Linked DNA regions of Homo sapiens: region 1 is linked to region 2. Evidence: fine-mapped expression QTL. Tissue or cell type: monocytes after interferon gamma. Region 2 holds a variant in brackets; the other region holds the start of a gene. All regions are shown on one strand. Distances are between the middles of the regions.

Region 1 (2,500 bases), 24 kb before region 2:
AATAGGCGCAGGAGGCTAGACAAGGGGCCTTTGTGTCTCCCAAGCAAAGGCCCCAGCAGGACTGCAGAGGCGGCTCAGCCACTATGGGCTGTGTGTCCACTCTGCTACTGCTCCTGGTGGGGCTGCAGCCAGCACCCTTCCTGGCAGCCAGGCCCAGTCAGCTGATATGGAGCCCAAGAGGGCCCAAGGCCCCGAAGGCCCGGGGCAAGTTCCTTGGCTACAGGAAGAGGCCTCCTCTGCACTTGTCCAGCCAGCGGAGCGATTGGCTCCATTTCACAGGAAAGAAGACCCTGCCAGGGAATGGAACTGGGTCAAGGTCTCCCAGAGTCAGTGCTGAAGCCAGACAGGAACCTACACTCCTGATTCCTAGACCAGAAATGAGAGAGAGGCGGGGTGCTCATTCATTCATCCATTCACACCTTCAAGGATTGAGCACCTCCCAGGACCTCTAGGACAGCAGCAGGAAGAAGGCAGACCTGGTTCCTGCCCTCGGGAGCTCACAGTCTCCGAACGGGTCAGACATGCAGCCGGTAGCCCGACCAGGGAAGGCCATTAGAGTGGGGTTGACGACAGAGAAGAGAGGTAAAGCAGCTCAAGATAAGGGGCCAGAGTGGGGAGTTCAGGGAGCTGCTGATAAGATTAAGGCAGGGAAAGTGGGGAGCACGGGAGAGGCGGGATCCTGAGTACCCTGCTTTCCTAACCACGGTAATGGAGAGAGGCACCCCCTTCCCCCACTTTCAAGCAAGGGAGGTACGTCCTTAGCCTGGGGTTCCGAGCAGGTATCTCCCAGTAGGTCCCTTCCTGGCCAGCCGGGCTGGGGCAGGGGCGGGACAGGGGTAGGGTGGCGCGGTGGCTGGGCGCAAAGGTCCCGCAGTGGGCCACGCAGGCACCGGGCTGACCTGGCAAAACTTTGGCGTCTCTGAAAACCTCTGGTAACCAGCTCCCTTCTAGCGTGAGGGAGCCGGGAGGCCTCCTTCTGGCCCGGCAGTGAGAGCGTCGCCGCCCGACCCTCCCGTTGCAGCACCGGTACAGACACGCTGACCCCGCGGCCTTGTCGCTGGGCGGCGTCCCGGAGCGGGTGGCGCGGTGTCTACCCGGGCGGGTTGAGGGCGGTGCCAGGGTCAGTCAAAAGTCCGCCCCGCCCCCTGCCTGGCCCGGCTTCGGGGTTGGGGAACAGCGCAGGGAGGTGGGTAGCCGGGCTCCCAGGCACGTGGGTCTCTGCGGCTGCGGCGGGACCCGGGCACTGGCACCCGGGAGCGGCGGCGACGGCACCCTGAGAGGAGAAGCGCAGCGCAGTGGCGAGAGGTGGGGTGGGGCGTCTGGAGGGAACAAGGCGCTGGGAGAGGCCCGGGGAAGCGGCGGGCCAGACTGGCGCAGGTGCGGACTGGGCGCGGGGCAGGGGAGGGCGCTGTGGAGCGGCTGTCGCCCCGGGGCACAGTTGCGAGCCGGCGTGTAGCGCATAACTGGACGGCTTGAACGCGCCTGTGGGTCCGTGGTTGAACTTTGTCTCCACGGGAGCGTCGGTCTCGGTGAGTGTGGACGGGCGCCCCAGTAGTGAGGCTGTGCGCGTCAGCGTACTGGGGAGGTCTGCGTGTTAGCGGGTGAGTGTGTGCGCCCCTCGGGGCGACTGGCCAAGCCTGCGGAACTTGTCTGTGTGTGCTCCGATGTGAGCGTCCCCGTGGCGTGAGGCGGTGGCCGGTGCCCAGAGACGCGAACCCCTGGAGACCCCCTACCACTGTCCTAACCCCAGGGTCACTCTGGGTGGCCACCTACCATTGGTAATGTTGAGGGGGCAGTTGCAGGGAGTGGGCGGGGGAGGAGGGAGTGGCCAGAAAGGACAGTTAAGCCTCTGTCCCCGGGCTTTTAATCTGGCAAATGGTGCGGTAGAAAGGGTCAGTCAGGAGAAAGGCGATACCCCACCCCCCAACCCGAAGGCTGCCAGTGGCCCTCTTGGGGTCCTCCAGGAGCGCAGCCCAAGGGTTGGGGACTGCTGGAGACCAGAATTGCCAGCTCGGGATTTGTGGGGTCCATGGCTGCTGTTCCTCTCAGCATGGCATCCCCAGCTTCCCAGGACCACAGCCTGATCTGCCTGGTTTGTTTTGGATCTAAGCTGAAATAATTATGAGTTTTGAGGATCTGGGTGGAGACCCAGGCAAGTTTATTACCTGTGGGTGGAAGTGGAAGGAAGAAGATTCTCTGAGCAGACAGGTCCACAAGAGAGCTCTGGAGACTCAGAGATCTATGTTCCAATCCTGTCTTGGCCACTGTGTGGCCTGGGCAAGCCGTCCTTTCTCTGAGCCTCAGTGGCCTCGTCTGTAAGAAGGGACTAATGATAAGGAATTTGAGGGCTGTTGAGGAGCTGATGAGTGTGTCATGTTCAGCACCAGTGTCCCCCCATGGGCAGGCTCACAGCTTGGGGATGGGAAGTCAGTCCCTGGAAGGAGCCTCCCAGAACCAGAATCCCAACTGTGCCCCTCCCTAGGGCACAAGCCTTCCACAG
Region 2 (3,012 bases):
AGCAGCCCACGCTGACTGTGACTGAACTCAGGGTGACAGAGCAGCAGCTCTGGGGCAAAGGGGAGGGTGGGGGCCACAGGGCAGCTGATGCAGGAGCAGGGCTCTGGCACAGTTCAGCCATCACCAATTCTGGGACTGCAAATTCAGTTTCTTCATCTGGAAAATTGAACTGGTAATACCAATACCTCTTTTCCCGGTTTACTAGACAGAGACAATGCAGTGAGGCACAAACATGCAACTGTTTGATTTTCCTCCCACCCATGCTCCCTGCTCAGTGACGTGTGATTTTCCTTTCCCATCCATAAACTGCGCATTTGGCAAACTCCAAACTTTTGAGTCACTTTTGGGTAACAAAGTCAGGTTTAAGATTTCCATCGCCTGCTTAATTGAATGCTCACCTGTCCTCTTCCCCCATGCTGTGAGGACCTTCATCACTCCTCTTCTGGGTCCCTCTCTCCTCTAGGTGTTGGGGCAGGGTGGGGAGGAAAGGGACCAATGTGTCTTTCCTGGTGATGCTACAGCCCTCTCTTGCTGACCTTGCTTCCTGGGCCATCAGTGCCCCCTGCACAGAACTCTCCAAACATCAGTCCACACCTTTGTAAAAACAGTCTCTCCGCTAAGCTATCCCAAAATGACCTGATTAGAGTGTGCAACGTCTTTCCTGCTGGGACTCTGACTGATACCCTGGTCTCCCTGAGTGATTTTCCTGCACACCCTGCTGGGGATGTGGAAGCCTGTCCCCCTCCCACCCCACACCCCACACTTGGCTGAGATCTCACAGTGGCAAAGATGTCTTTGAATCCATGGTGCCCAGGGTTCAGCGTGTAGAGTGAGGTGGGGTGTGTAGAGAGCTGGGGCAAGGAACCCTGAGAAGATGTCTTACCCCAGTTGTTTCCAGGTTTCTTTAGAAAGCGGGCTATTTTACCCCATGTGTCCTCAGATTTATGTCCTGGAACCAAATTCCAAATCAGCAGCCACATGAAAAGTCCCCTCCTCTCTGGCGTGGAATTAAACTGTTAGACCTGCCTTTGTGACCAAAGCAATTGTAAAACGTGGGGGAGGAAATTAAAAGCCTGCCACCTTAGTCCACACAGTGTGTGCTGTCTCTGTGTGTGTGCACGTGTGTTTATGTGTGTGTTGAATGATCACATGTTCCAGGGAGGATGGTGAGGGGCGAGGGGCAGTCCTGGCAGGTACCAAGTGGACACTCAGAGACAGAAGGGCTGCAGGTGGGCAGCCAGGCCAGAGGGGGGCAACAAGGGGCTGCCAGGAGTCAGACTAAACCCCGGAAGTGGAAGTGGAATGGCAGGAAGAGATGGGAATGGAGAGAGGGTCCAGCTGCCAGCTCTGTGGCACCCCCTCTCCTTCCCTCCCTCCCACTCTAACTCCCTTTCCCTCCCCACTCCCCATCACCCTCCCCTTTTGCTCCCTGTCCCCAGAATCCTTGGGAGCAAAGGGAGGCGGACAGGGACAGTCCACTCTGTGCTCTGCCCTGGCTGTTTAGTCTACGAAGGGCCCCAGGTTGGTTGGTGCTGCTCTGCTTCCCCC[T/C]GGTGGCCAAAGCTGGCAGCAGTGGCAGGAAACGGGGGCTGGGATCCAGACCTTCGCCTATGGGGTGATAAGAAAATGATCCGGCTGCAGCCAGGCTGTTGAGTGTGAGGGTCCGGGGGGAGAGCTGACAATTGAAACAGAGAACACAATTTGCATACAGTGACTTGCCAACATGCCCTGACTTGCCAACAAGGTGACGGTGCCTGGCCCAAACCATGATGTCCGTCTCCTGCACCCCAGCCAGGGGTAGAGATCATTCCCTGCTGAGCAATCCCTTTTCCTGTGGAAGACCACTCTTCACAGGGTCCTGCGCCTCCCCAGCTCAGACTCAGGGACACAGCACATCTGCCTAGGGCAGCCGTGGAAGGACATGGAAGGGTGTAACCATGCTCTTTCCAAAGAATGGGCACCCCTAACTCTCTCTTCTACCCCACTCCGGTAACCCCATCCTCACCAGAGACCCCTGCCCTCCGCACGCCCCTAGAAGTCCTTGTCTTCTCACAGGACAGCCTTCAAAACTGCACTCCATGCCCCGGAGAAGTGTGACTAGCACAGCCGGTTCTCCCAGGAACTCCATCTGGGAAGAAGTTGGGGTTCATCCACCACACCTGAGATGCCTGTAATTTGGATCCCACCAGCATGTCCGTAGGTAAGATGTGTCTGACTCCTGTGGAAGTCATGTGGAAAGGGAGGCCTGAGTTCGGGGTCCTTGTGTGGATCCAGAAGCAGAGGTAAGATGGGAAGCCTCAGCCAGCCTCCTAAGCCGTCCTCTCAGATCTCTGCACACCTCTCACCCACAAGCTTTTACTCCACATAAACCCAGATGCCCTCATTCACAGCACAGAAAGCACACAAATCCTGGAGTCAGAGGGACTTGCGTTTGAATCCCAGCTCTGCCACTCATCAATCAGGCGACCTTGGGTACCTGTTTTCTCATCATAAACAAAGGGGGTAACTGGCCGGGCATGGCAGCTCACACCTGTAATCCCAGCACTTTGGGAGATCGAGGCGGGTGGATCACTTGAGCTCAGGAGTTTGAGACCAGCCTGGCCAACATGGTGAAACCCCATCTCTACTAAAATACAAAAATTAGCTGGGAATGGTGGCACGTGCCTGTAATCCCAGCTACCTGGGAGGCTGAGGCAGGAGAATTCCTTGAACCCGGGAGGCAGGAGGCGGAGGTTGCAGTGAGCCGAGATTGTGCCACTGTACTGCAGCCTGGGCAACAGAGCGAGACTCCATCTCAAATTAAAAAAAAAAAAGTGGGGGGGGATGGTAACCATACTCACATCATAGTTTATTTATGCTGTTTCTCCTTGCTAGAATGAAAGTTCCCAAAAGGCAGGGATCTGTTTTGGTCACTGCTTTATCCTCCGTGCCCATCAGTGCCCGGCACATTCCTTTCCTTTGCAAAGGAAATAAATTAATTATTTTACAAGTTTCACAATGGCCCTTTGAGGCAGG

Alleles and levels. Positions count from the first base shown, and alleles are read on the strand shown. Sizes are in standard deviations (SD) of each study's normalised expression.
For the expression in monocytes after interferon gamma of the gene that starts at base 1,154 in region 1, allele C in region 2 goes with a higher level than allele T (moderate effect, 0.45 SD a copy in Fairfax 2014).

What was found. PIP is the estimated chance that this variant, and not a neighbour inherited with it, causes the effect. A credible set is the group of variants that fine-mapping cannot tell apart.
Region 1: it holds the start of P2RY2, and the variant in region 2 is the best candidate, but not a certain one, in a credible set for the expression of P2RY2 in monocytes after interferon gamma (Fairfax 2014, PIP 0.64).

The regions. Positions count from the first base shown.
Region 1 is chr11:73,217,128-73,219,627 of GRCh38, forward strand. It overlaps P2RY2 (purinergic receptor P2Y2), which reads left to right and starts at 1,154. Exons shown (of 3, transcript NM_002564.4): 1 at 1,154-1,305. It overlaps LOC124902709 (a long non-coding RNA gene), which reads right to left and starts at 1,066. Exons shown (of 3, transcript XR_007062773.1): 1 at 900-1,066. RefSeq lists enhancers at 988-1,706, 1,707-2,425 and a silencer at 1,065-1,274.
Region 2 is chr11:73,241,247-73,244,258 of GRCh38, forward strand. P2RY2 (purinergic receptor P2Y2) reads left to right here. Exons shown (of 3, transcript NM_002564.4): 3 at 1-1,181. Among named protein-coding and RNA genes, the nearest start is that of P2RY2, 24 kb to the left of the region's middle. RefSeq lists enhancers at 1,225-1,971, 1,617-1,856. The variant T/C (reference allele first, on the strand shown) is at 1,549.